Linked DNA regions of Homo sapiens. The protein of the gene in region 2 interacts with the protein of the main gene of each other region in a pairwise test. Each region holds a gene or a part of one and is shown on either strand. Other genes may lie near its edges.

What was found. The genes of interacting proteins can lie anywhere in the genome.
Region 1: the proteins of HCN1 (region 2) and INA interact in binary tests that used the Homo sapiens proteins (3 or more experiments, as listed by UniProt).

The regions. Positions count from the first base shown.
Region 1 is NC_000010.11:103,280,132-103,287,158, reverse strand, and holds part of INA (alpha-internexin), read right to left. Parts: intron 125-7,027; coding exon 1-124. UniProt on the Homo sapiens protein: Class-IV neuronal intermediate filament that is able to self-assemble. It is involved in the morphogenesis of neurons.
Region 2 is NC_000005.10:45,644,366-45,651,392, forward strand, and holds part of HCN1 (potassium/sodium hyperpolarization-activated cyclic nucleotide-gated channel 1), read right to left. Parts: intron 1,244-7,027; coding exon 820-1,243; intron 1-819. UniProt on the Homo sapiens protein: Hyperpolarization-activated ion channel that are permeable to sodium and potassium ions. Displays lower selectivity for K(+) over Na(+) ions.

The DNA of each region.
Region 1 (7,027 bases), on a different chromosome or scaffold from region 2:
TGTAAGCTGCTATCTCAATGTCAAGAGCCATTTTGACATTGAGCAAGTCCTGGTATTCCCGAAGGTGGCGTGCCATCTCACTCTTGGTGTTCCTCAGATCATTCTCCAGCTGCCCAATGCTATCCTGAAAAGTAACATATCCAAAATAGTTAGGCCAAACCAGCTGAAATTCCTCAAGATTTCCAGAAGGCAAGGATTCCCAGCCCTGACTACACATTAAAATCATCTAATGAACTTATAACTTGCTTATATCCAGGTCTGTCCCTGAGTCCAGATCCAGATTCACTGGTTCTGGGGTGGGGTCCCAGCATTTGCATTTTTTTCATAAAGGTCCCCAGGAGATTTGGACTCATGGTGAGGACTGGGAACTTTTACCCAGAGGGCAAGTGAACACCTGCCCTTTTCAGGATAGCCACACGGCATATAGTTCTGAACTGAACATGGAGATGATTTTTTTTTTTTTTACACTTACCATCCCTCCCTTGCTTGTTGTGTTGCTGCTAAATAACTCTGTTGTAGCATGTGCTTTCCAAAACCCAAAGCCTCAGGTTAGCAGCTTAGATTCAGAAAATTCCGAATGTGGAAAGCACAGAGAGCTTTCCAGGAAGACCTCTCTGCCTCCATTCATTTTGATGATTTCCTAGAAGCCTGCTAATCAGTCACTTTACTGAGAGCATTTTACATTATAGGTAAGGAGAAAGCAGAAATACTCCACAGAATTTTTAAAACACCGAGGCATGGAAGAGAAATCGCTTTATATTTATATATTTATAGTCCTTGAGCAGCCAGAAGGAATTCTTTTTTTTTTTTTTTTTTTTTTTTTGAGACAAGGTCTTGCTCTGTTGCCTAGGCTGGAGTACAGTGGTGTGATCACAGCTCACTGCAGCCTCAAAATTCCTGGGCTCAAGCGATCTTCCTGTCTCAGCCTCCCAAGCAGTTGGGACTAACAGGTGTACACTACCATGCCTGGCTAGTTAAAAAAGATTTTTGTTTTGTAAAGATGAGGTCTCATTATGTTGTCCAGGCTGGTCTTGAACTCCTGGCCTCAAGAGACACTCCTGCCTTTACCTCCTAAAGTGCTTAGATTACATGTATGAGCCACCATGCCCAGCCTGGTCTTTTCTTTTACTCCTTAACTATACCAAGTTCATTGCTGTCCCAGGCCCTTCAGGCTTGTTATTTCCTCTATCTAAAATGCCGGTCTTTACATGGCCGACTCCTTGTCATAGAAGATTCAGTTCACCCGGGTGTGGTGGCTCACACCTGTAATCCTAGCACTTTGGGAGGCTGAGGCAGGCAGATCACCTGAGATCAGGAGTTCAAGACTAGCCTGGCTAACATGGCAAAACTCCGTCTCTACTAAAAATACAAAAATTAGCTGGGTGCAGTGGCATGCACCTGTAATCCCAGCTACTTGGGAGGCTGAGGCAGGAGAATCGCTTGAACCCAGGAGGGGGAGGTTGCAGTGAGACGAGATCGCGCCACTGCATTCCAGCTGGGCAACAAGAGCGAAACTCCATCTCAAAAAAAAAAAAAAAAAGATTCAGTTCAAATGTCCTCTCCTGCCAGGCATGATGGCTCATGCCTGTAATCCCAGCACTTTGGGAGGCTGAGGTAGGAGGATCACCTGGAGTCGGGAGTTCGAGACCAGCCAGACCAACAAGGAGAAACCCCGTCTCTACTAAAAGTACAAAAATTAGCTGTGTGCAGTGGCAAGCGCCTGTAATCCCACCTACTTGGGAGGCTGAGGCAGGAGAATCGCTTGAATCTGGAAGGCAGAGGTTGCAGTGAGCTGAGATCGTACCACCGCACTCCAGCTTGGGCAACAAGAGCAAAACTCTGTCTCAAAAAAGATTCAGTTCAAATGTCCTCTCCTGCCAGGCACGATGGCTCATGCCTGTAATCCCAGCACTTTGGGAGGCTGAGGCGGGAGGATCACCTGGGGTTGGGAGTTCGAGACCAGCCAGACCAATATGGAGAAACTCTGTCTCTACTAAAAATACAAAAATTAGCCGGGCGTGGTGGTGCATGCCTATAATCCCAGCTACTAGGGAGGCTGAAGCAGGAGAATTGTTTGAATCTGGGAGGCGGAGGTTGCAGTGAGCCGAGATCGTGCCATTGCACTCCAGCCTGGACAACAAGAATGAAACTCCATCTCAAAAAATAAAATAAAATAAAATAAAATAAAATATAATGTCCTCTCCTCAGACAGGTCTTCATTTGCATCCAATTTAAGTATCCATCCTCGACCAACCCAGCACTTTATTTTACCTTAAGCCAGAGCAGCTACTGGCCCATGCAGGAACCTTGTGCAAATTAGAAAAAAAGCACTCAGTTGAATGCAGCCACCCTGCTCTCAGCTCTTACCATTATATGAAATTATCTTCTTCTTTTTTTTTTTTTCCGAGATGGAGTCTTGCTCTGTTACCCAGGCTGGAGTGCAGTGGCGCAATCTCAGCTCACTGCAACCTCCACCACCTGGGTTCAAGTAATTCTCCTGCCTCAGCCTCCTGAGTAGCTGGGATTACAGGTGTGCACCACCACACCTGGCTAATTTTTGTATTTTTAGTAGAGATGGGGTTTCACCATGTTGGCCAGGCTGGTCTTGAACTCCTAACCTCGTGATCCGCCCGCCTCAGCCTCCCAAAGTGCTGGGATAACAGGCATGAGTCACAGTGTCCGGCCCCGGCAATTTACTGGTTTATACTAGTTTATTTTCTGTTGCTTTCCTCTATAACAGAGTTTTACAACTTTGGCAGTGTTGATGTTTTAGGCTGGCTAATTATTTGTTATTGTGAAATGCGGGATATTTAGTAACATCCCTGGCTAGATGCCAGAAGCACATACTTCCCTCTCCCAGTTGCGATAACAAGAAAACATCTCTAGGGCATCCCAGCACTTTGGGTAGCTGAGGCAGGCGAATCACTTGAGGCTGAGCTGAGAGAATTGCTCGAGCCCGGTAGGCGGAGGTTGAAGTGAGCTATGATGGCGCCACTGTGCTCCAGCCTGGGCGACACAGCAAGACCCCGTCTTAAAAAAAAAAAAAAAGACACAATGATTGGGGGTTATTTTTAAGAAACAGTCATGCAGGGCCGGGCATGGTGGCTCATGCCTGTAATCCCAGCACTTTGGGAGGCTGAGGCGGGTGGATCACCTGAGGTCAGGAGTTCAGGTCAATCAAGAGACTGAGACTATGCTGGCCAACATGGTGAAACTATGGTCTCTACTAAAAATACAAAAATTAGCTGGGCGTGGTGGCGTGTGCCTGTAATCCCAGCTACTCTGGAGGCTGAGGTAGGAGAATCACTTGAACCTGGGAGGCAGAGGTTGCAGTGAGCTGAGATCGTGCCATTGCACTCCAGCCTGGGCAACAAGAGCAAAACTCCATCTCAAAAAAAAAAAAAAAAAAAGAAACAGTGATGCAGATAAACATATCAGAAACCTCAAGAAAGTAAGTGTTGACAGGCCCTTGAAACTCCCCTTGTGTGAGAATGATAAAGCAATGGTGAAAGGTAGGGCTGAGACATCAGGGGGTACAAACTTCCAAATCAAGAGAATTTGCAGAATTAAAATTCATACCACCTACCTGTTCTATAAATATTGACAGGAATACTGCAAAGAGGAGTCTCAATTGACTGATGGGTACAGAACAAGGAATGACAGTCAGTAGGAAAAATACGTATTATACTGGACCGTGATGCATATATTTCAAAGTGTGTTAAGAGATCATGAGGCCTTAAAGAGATTTTTACCAAGAAATTTTACCTGATAGTTCCTATTTGAGGTTATAATCAATTCTGCTACTGACATAGAATCACTGACATAGACCCTCTAGCTACTGACAAGAGAATCAATATTACTGTGGTAAGAGGGAAAAGAGTCTAGAGTGAGGGAAAAAGGAGAAAGAAGAAAATATGATTATGCAAAGAAGGAGGAGGAATGCTATATGAAGATAAGAGGAGGATTTCATCAGGAACTTGGGTTGCAGTTTTTGCTCTGCCACTAACATCCATTGGACCTCAGCCAGTTTTCTACATTTTAGTTCCTTCCAATCTTCTACTTCTGCATACGGAAAGTTATGTTTACTCTTTTTCTAAGGTGTTCTGAGATCCTCAAATTAGGATTTCAATTTAATATATCTCACATATACATTAATATATGATGAGTCCATTATCTGTTAAATTAGTAGGCATCAGAACAGCATGGCACACAGGAAGAACTCAATAAATGTTAGTGATTTTTATTCTTGATAATATCATACCACATGGCCCTCTATCCTTTTGATGATATAGACAAATTAATCACAAGCCCTCACTATTACCAACCCCTTAGATAACTACGAAAAGTAACATATAACAACACTTTAATATTGGATAGTTGGAGGCATATACCTTAAAGCACCAGATTTTTTTTTTTAATAACAATTTTGAATAAAAAGCCTTTCTAAAGTGGCTTATACCACTCACAATCAGGACACTAAACATAATGCCACCTTCCACAGCAATTAAGGGTCATGATAATAATCAATTTTAAAAATAATTCGGTGACATCTTTTAGGTCATTCGAGGTATATCAGGCTGTTTAATTCTACCCTAAATGGCCCCAAAGTGCGGTGTTTGGATTAGTGTTGATGCTCATTGATTTTCTTTGTTCTGAAAGATGAACGGATCTGCTGCTGCTCATTCTTAACAATGCCTGACTCCAGTGGTCCCCATTCTCCATCTTGCTGCAGTCTTGAAACCAAATAAAAAAGCATTTTGAAATCGTGTTAAGAATGAATAGGCTGGGGGCAGTAGAGGTGCCAAGTTCCTAATGTTTGGCTTAGAGATAGATGATATGTCTCATCAGCAGGTTAATTAGGTCCTTGCTTAAAACATTATTTTTGTTTCACAGCTGTGTTTTCTGAATAAGAGGTGGTTGGGGAGCTGAGTTCTAGACAGATGAGATTTCCTTGAACTTCTATGTTGCAGATTTCATATATCTATTTTACAGATCACTGTAGAGAAAAGCACAACTTTGCTCCTTTCAGAAGGAAGTGTGCTGTGTTCTGACCATTGATTGCTCTTCAATGTCTGGTCTCTTTGTTTGTGCTCTCCTCCCCACATCAGGCTGTGTCTTGCATTGCCCTTCAGAAGCCCTGCCAAAGATGGCCTCCAGCTCGAGATCTGAGCAGAGCGCTGCAGTCTGTCCCCTCCCCCAACCACGCAGCTGCTGCCGGCTTAGCCTGAGGGAACCGGAGAGCGGCACGCCCAGCTCCAGCTGGGGTCTCTCCTGGAGGAGCTAAGACAAACGCTGAGCATCGTCTTAGCTCGTCTGAGCATCGCAGCCCGTGGCTGGAAGGATGCCGGGTGGAGTAAGAGAAATGAATGGCCACACTAACATCTGCAGTGGTGAAGAAGAACGACAGAGCTGTGGATTTCAGCACGTTTGGGGGCCCTGGGTCAGGGAGGCAGTAGTGAGTGCCCCACAGTCTGATTGAAAGAGGCTATTTAGAATTACTGCTCTGCATAATCAACTTGAGTGGGGACGGAGGATTTTTATTTGTGGTTCACCATGCGTGCTTTATTCTCACTCCTACCTTTCCTTTGTCCCCATCTTTTTCTTTCCTCCACCACACTCGAAAATCCTGTATTATACGTATCTCCGTAAACTACTTTACTGGAAGAAGTGGTTTAGATCAATGTACTCCAAAGTCAGTCTGAGGACCAACAGGATGCAGCACTTTTATTGAAAAATGCATATTCCCGGGCCCTACCTGTGAACTGCTGAATCCATATCTTTGGGAGTGGGCCTGATAATTTTTTTAAGCCCCCAATTGACCTTAGAGTGTCACTGGGTTTAGGATCCACTAGTTTAAATTTTTTTCTATAAAGATGCTATCATGGTAGCCCAGGTGACAGTAATACAGTAAGATAGGGAGGGGCAAACAAAACAAAATGAAACAAAAACCAGGTGGAAGAGCTTAAAAAAGATCAAATGTAGCTAATTTTAGAAATGGATCTATCAAGCTATGGATTTATATGCAGCCACTGTCACCTCCAGTCTCCAAGGGGCCAGCCCCTTCCTGCTATTTAATTAGGCTGTACTCCAATCTCATAATGGAGAAAAAAGAGAAGACTTGGCTTGTCTCCCTGGAGAGCATTAACCTGCGGTGATCTTGATCATTCAGCAAGGTCTTTCAAGGAAAGCTTCAACTTTCCAAGACTGACCACAGTAGAGGTCTGAGACCCTGAGTACCCTCCAAGAATGTCTTTGGACATCTTTAACAGAACTAGGACTCTAATGGTGCCGAAGTGGCTATGTAGGCACCAGCATTGCCCTATGTCAGAAATGGAAACCCCATCAGCTTTTTATGCAGAGGGGAGTTGCATTTGGCTTTTGAAGACAATAGCCTTAGCTCTTCCTAATCTCTTCTCTTGCCTGATTCAGACTCTCTCATCCACTATTGTGTACTTACTGTGTCACCGTGAATCATTTTTTACCCTTTCAAAAGTGTAAGAAGCTTTCTCTCCTTAAATAGGCTATCAGCTATCTGGGGCAGAGAAGATGGGACTTTAATGGGGCCTTCCTATGTTTCATAGAGGGTGCCAAGTTTGAAAAGAAAAATGGCCCTACCACTAATCTCTGTAGCAGAAGAAGGAGAACAGCCTCCCATTACTGCAGTGAAAGGTGGGGATGAGATGAGAGGGCAAGAAAACAATGGCTAAATCTCACTGTAGAAAGGGAGGCTTTTCACCTTGGTCAGCACTGCTAAGATTGTTAGAACAGTCAGAGACACCCTTGTGGCATCAGGCCGTTAGGATCTGCAGGTAAGACTTGAGCTCCACCTTAGCCTTAGGTCCCAAGGAGTAGGGAACCAGCTCTCTGTTGTCTGACCTCCTCTTCCACTCCCATCAGCAGGTCCTCTGTGGCTCTAAAGGCTCAAGCTGATGGGGGCAGCACCGCAGAGCTGCAGATGCTGCAGTTTCTCTGTTGTTGTTTTTTGTTTGTTTCCTGTAGACCATGTCTGGATGACGCTACCATTGTC
Region 2 (7,027 bases):
TTAATATTCAGACTTTGAAGATAGGGATATGAACTCCTTTGCTTGATGATGGTTTAACTCAGATCTTTGGAAACTCCAGTTGGCTGAGCCCTCTCAGGTCCCACCCACTGCCTAACAACAGATGCTCTATTCAGCAAAATATGGGCCTGATTGGTCAGATTCACTCCATTTATTCACTATACTCTTTGTGTTTTCTATGTACTAATGTCCCTCATGAATATGTTCCTTTTTAGTATTATGAAATGAACTAATAGGGAGAAACTAAAATAAGTTACTATAGGCAAGGCATAACAATAAGCAAAATTAATATGCTAAAATCAAAGCCTTTATATATACAATTTGGAAATAAAGAAACAATCTGTTTTACCCAATCATGAATTCAATGAAACTTCAATATTAGAGGATACAAAAACCACACTATCTCACAGAGCTAATGATGTGCCAGATTAGCAATCAGACCCTACACATCTTTATCAAAATAATGGTACTTGATGTATTTATATTAGATTAAAAAAAACCAAGGTGGGAAAGGGGTTGTATTGATCAAGATAATAATTGCTGATTAAAGTGCATTTATTTAAAAATAAAATAAATTGGCATAAAACGATCACTATTTTTTTCAGTTCATTCAAATCCATTATTTGATCATATATTTTAGGGATACAAATATATCACTTATGCATGGAAAAGAGTCGTCGAATACATTTTTCTACTTGAATTTCATAAAACTCATTACACATTGCACAGTTGTTCATTGTAAAACAGCCATAATTAACAATTTCATGATATAGATTTAAAAAAGAAAAAGATGCATCTTACCTCTTCCCATTGATGTATGTATCTAATTAACCTTGAAAGTCGTAATAAACGCAAGAGACTGAGAATTTTTGTAAACCTCACAATGCGAAGTGCCCTGGCTGTCTTGTAAACTTCAGAATCCATTCCTTTTTCTACAATAAGAAAGATATAATCCACTGGGATGGATGAGATGAAGTCAACCACAAACCAGCTTTTTAAATAATTCATCTTGATCACTTTGGGGTCCAGGATGATTTCAGAACTGTCTTCATTGACAGTCCCAGTCCTAAAATTCATGATCAGGTCCAATAGGAAAACTGTATCTGATGCCACATTGAAAATAATCCATGGTGTTGTTGTTTGCTCTGTAAAGAATGTGATTCCAACTGGTATGATGACTAGATTTCCAACCATCATTATAAGCATTATTAAATCCCAGTAAAACCTACAACAAATAAAAAAATCAGATTTTAAGATATAGAAAATAACCAGCCTATCCCCCCCATGAAAAATTATTACTGATATATAGTGAGATCAATAAGTAAAAGAACAAAGAAATGATTTTATTTTTTAAAAATGTAATTCCTTAAATGGCTATATGTTTAAATCTAAGTAAAATTAATATATTCTTAAACCAAGGCATTATGATTATGGAATTCTAAAAATTATGTGATATGAAGCATTATACAAATAAAATCAAAAACATTCATACCCCCATTTATTTAGTAAAGAGGCAAAAAAAGCAACCTACCTTATACTTAATACAAAATATAGACAGAAACTAGAAAGAAGTATAAGATTAGAAGATCTGTAAGAAAGCCTTTGGGAAGGCTCTTTGAAGATGTTTTGAATTATTTTAGATGTCAATTTACCAATCATAGATTAGAAAAAAAAACCCAGAAATAAATAGGATACTCTAACAATTTTAGTTATGCAAATTTATCTCAAGGAATACAGATTAGTTTTGCCATGGAATCTAGAATACACTGGAGTTTTGCAGTACTCCAAATATTTTATGCTTTATTTTTCTTTTGCTTGAAATAAGAAAACTAATTTTGGTCTGATGCTAAAAAGAACTGAGCAAGTTCTACTCCATATTTGAAACTAGAATCTACCTAAAATTTGTGTTTTTATTACTACTCTATTGAACAACTACTTCAAATATATTGCCACTACTTTTCCATAAAAATTCTTTCTTTCTTTCTTTTTTTTTTTTTTTTTTTTGAGACGGAGTTTCATTCTTGTTGCCCAGGTTGGAGTACAATGGCACAATCTCAGCTCACTGAAACCTCCGCCTCCCAAGTTCAAGTGATTCTCCTCCCGCCTCAGCCTCCCGAGTAGCTGGCATTACAGGCGTGCCACCATGCCCAGCTAAAAAAAAATCTTTAACATTTCTAATTTAATTCTGAACATGCCTATGACTACTAAGTACCTTTTGAAATATTCTTATCTCAACTTACATTAAAATTGAGAGAAAACCAGGAACTTCATTGCTGGTTTATATAGCTTAACTAAATTAACTAAATTCACTTGACATAACTATAGTGTTATTTTTATAAGGGTTCTTTCAGTCTGTTGACACTCCTATTAATCAAATATTTATAGTTGTTACAGTATATACTTGCAAAAATGAAAAAATAAACACAACTGTATAATCATGAAATGTATCCAGAAACATGAGTTACTTTATCCTAGTCATAGGTATGTTATTTGAGGAGTTTTGTATAAACAATATAAACTTCCATGATAAAAATGTCTGTTTACCAAGATATTTTTGTTTTACATGAATACTCCTACTTAGACTATTTGAGCTACATTTTGGTGAGGTATACATGTGTATAAAGCTTTCAAAGTTACTATCATCTGTAATTAAGAATGACTCCTGAAATAAAAGTACTAGTTGAAGAAAAAACTATAATAGGCCCTATCTCCCCTGTCTCCAGCCTCAGGATGTTGTAAAGGATAAGCGTTTGTTATTTTGAAGATTTCACCAGTATTTCTGTCAAAACTTGCCTGCAATTTTTGAAACAACTGTACAAATACCCATGTCAGCCATACAACATGTACTGGCAGTTTAAATGAAATGGTTTTATATCTTCTCACAATGGAAATGCAAAATATACCATTCAACACAATAAGGACAGAGGAGAGATGTAGAGGAGGAGCAATATTGTAACAGCTATTTCACAAAGAAATGGCACCACTAAACTCTAAAATGAAACTGTGTGTACCCTGAGGATTTTTCACTTCTGGGCACTCCTATCAAGTCCCTTCTGTAAGCTTCTCTCTCTGCCCTCCCCTTCAAGGCTGTTGTTCCCCTGGGTGTCACACATAGCCCTTTCATCTTCTATTCTACGCATTGCCCTTGAGAAATATTATACACTTATCCATGCCTTTAATAATTAATTTGTAACTGATGACCCCAAAAGCTTTATCTTCAGTCCATTCCTATCTTCTAAGCCTCCTAATCCTCATAATCAGTAGCCCGTTAAATCTCTCTCCTGGCATATCTCACACTCATCTCAAACAGCATGCCTAAGCTCAAACTCATAATCTCCTCTCCCACATATATTCCTCACATATCCCCTATCTCAGGGAATGGAATAACTCTATGTGTGATTTGCAAGCCAGAAACCATGGAGCCATCCTAAATAACTCCTGGCCCTAAATCTGCTCAAACCCATATCCAATTGATCACCAAGGCTGTTTAGTTCTCACACCTAAATGTATGTTGTATTCATCCATTTGCACTTTACTATTCCCACTGCAGCTGTCCTCATTCAGAAAGTCTTACCAGCTGTTTTATTTAAATACAAGCCAATTAAATGATTTTATTTTACATTTTCTAACCTGTTCAAAGAAGATTATTACAGAGCCAAATATACAGGGTTTTATGGATTAAACGAGACGATATATGCTAATCCCAGGGCCTGGCATATAATTGTGGCACACAATGCCAGTGGCCTAGTCACTACCCATTTACCCTTCCTCACTTACCACAAGAAATCCAATTTTGTGGGAAGCACCCAGCAACCTAATGAAAAATACTCATTTCTACAGACATCTTTGCATTTCTGTAATTAAGATAGAAGCTTTTTTTGAAGGAAAACTAATATCCCATCCCTCAGAGCAATAGAGATGAAAAGAAAGCACCATTCATTCTTTACTACAGTAATAATGCTTATCACACTATAGCTTTTTGCTAGCAATACTTAATATGGTCTGAAGCCATTAGATATCTCAATACCAGTAGGAAACTCTGTTAAACCCCATAATATCCTTTTAAAGTAACATCGACTCTATTTTGCAGACAAAACCACAGGTGCTTTTATATGCTTACATAATATTGTCTTTAGTTAGCATGGATTCATTCCTTAGGTAACAAAAAAATACAATCATCACCTGTTCTAGAAGTGCAATATACCTTCTTTAAAAAAAGTAAATGGGTTCTTAAAAATTGACCTCATGAAAATCTCTTACCTAATTGCCCATGAGTCTTTCTTTCTAGCTCTTTACTCTCAAAATTTCTCTTAGATACCCAAGCTCCTTCTTTACCTTAACTCTCAGTTTCTATGTCTTGCACATTTTATTACCATATCATCTTTCCTATCTATCCCCTCCTTCCATTCTTATTTCTCTGGTCTGGGCAGAGCCACCTTCTGCTTGAAATTCCTCATGAGTCTCCTGCCTCTTCTCTCTAATCAAGTCCCACCACTCCCAAAGCAACTTACCTAACAATCAATTTGCTAGGTCAACAACCAGCACTGACTCTCTCAATTAAACGAAAACAACTTAGTCTGTTTGTCAAGGCACTCCAGGATATGGCCTCCTCCTGCCTTTCCATCCCCCTCTTTTAACAACTGAGGACAAGCATCCCATATCTCAGGCAAGAGGGCACTTGCTCATGCTTTGCCCTCATGCCTACCTGGGTACACATACAGGAGATATGATTACTTCCATTCCAGCTATCTTTCTACCTAACAGCCCTCAAATCCCCTCAAATCCCTTTCTACTTCTCCCTCAAATCCCATTCTGGCAATGAGTTTCTTAGTTTGTTTGTGTGTGAGTGTGTGTTTTATTTTTGTTTTAGTAGACTTTATTTTTAGAGTAGTTTTAGGTTCATGGAAAACTTTAACTGAGTGTACAGAGATTTCTTATATACCTCCTGCCCCTACACATATATAGTCCCTCCCCATTATCAACATCCCCCACCATAAAAAAAAAATTGTTACAAATGATGAACCTACACTGACATCTCATTATCAACCAGAGCCCACAGTTTACATTAGGATTCACTGTTGGTGTACATTCTATGGTTTGGGCAAATACATAGAGACATGTATATACACCAGTAGTTTCACTGCCCTAAAAATCACATGTGCTTTTCCTATTCATCCTTCTTTCACCTCATTTGTTAGTTTTTTTTTTTACAACCCTCAGAGCAGCATATATTCTCAACATGTTTCCTATTTTTGATTCTGTTACTATTTGTATGTGTTTCTTCCATCATTACTGATTCAAGTTATTTAAAGTTCAAAACTGTATCTTGTCTTCTATATATTTTCTGCTATAAGATAGATAGCATCTAAGATAGCAAATGTTAAGAATATTTATTAATTGGATTTTTAATGAAAACATACACTTTAATGGGGGATATTTAAAGAAAACCTTTTATAATAAGCCAAAGAGCCATTAACAAAGTAAATAATAATTTCTTATTTGTCTTGCATATAGATCTGGATTTTACTTATTAAGGGTTTTCATTTTTACAACAGAATATGTTAAAATAAATAAAATAGGAAACAAAGAGGTTAGAAATATGCTCTTAGGTTAGATATCTAAAAAACAAAAGAGTTGTGTATTTGAGATGTTTTTACATATCATATATCTACCTACTTCTATTCATCCTGCCCCAGAGAAAAAGTATTTGTAAAAGAACTTGCTTGGACTTTGAAGGCAGACCAGAGTTAAAATCCTAGCTCCACTAACTGGATGATTTGGAGCAAGATATTTAGCTGCCATAAACTTTCATTTTTTTCTACTACTCTTAGAGTTACTCTGTGTGAGGACTACATGCAATAGTGTATGCAAAGTGTAGCATATAGAACCTGTATGAAGAGAAGCCACGACACAAAAATGATAGCTTCGGAATTCTATCTTACACTGGAATCTCTGTGGTATCCTGAATAAGGTGCCAGTTCTCCACAAAGCCTAACGTCAACAATGATAGGACTCTTTACTTATTTCTCCTTCCTTATAATAAAACCCCATCAACTGAAGGGGATGGAGAAAGAAACTGTTACGTAGAAACTTCCTTTCTCTGAAATACCAGCAAAGCAGAGAGGACACTCACTGGAAAACTAATGATCTTTATAATTACAGCAAAATCATAATCTAGGTAACTATTTTACCTTTTTCACTGGAAATATATAGAATAGGCTAAATAAAATATTATCACTAATAAGTATAATATTAACTACTAATAAAATAATTTTCATAGGCCACTTATTTTTTATGTAGAGTGTATCTTCTCCCTATAGGTTTCTAGAAGAGATAAAGTGGCGTTGTAAAGATTAGTCCATGATACTAAATCAAGAAGAATTTCAAATTCAGTCATACTTTTTTTTCTCTACCCACATGCAACCCTTTAAGGCTTGTGGTAAGGAGAACTCCTCCTTGTTCCTAACAAGAACTTCCCACTCTTCTTAAGGTTTCCCAGCCCCAGTTGCTTACGTTATCTTCTCTACTTGAAACAGCCTGATGTCAGACATTTCTAACCTAAAGCTTTAATGAGATTTAAATAATCGTCATACTTTACTACTACTAAAGGTGCTTGTATTTACAATATTTTCTCTAAATATTGAATGAAAAATTCTTTTCTCCCCTCTCTGTGATGAAATAAATATTTGTCATTGAGCAGAATTGAATAAAAATATTTATGGTTAATTTCCTGACACGGTACCAGATTTACAGTCGCTCCTATTTTATCTACAGTTGAAGTCAAATAATGTCATAAATCTGTCCCCTCAACTCACACTTAAGATTCACTTCTAAAAGAAAGAAATAGAATTCCCAAAAGATAAATGCTTTTGATAACTTCTCATGAAATATAGCACCTCTTTGGCTGATATACAGCCATAGTGTGCTGCTTCTGTGATCTGTTACTGGTTTCAAAATTAGTGGTATTCTGGGAGACTAATTAACATCATTAGCCACAATATAAAAGTTT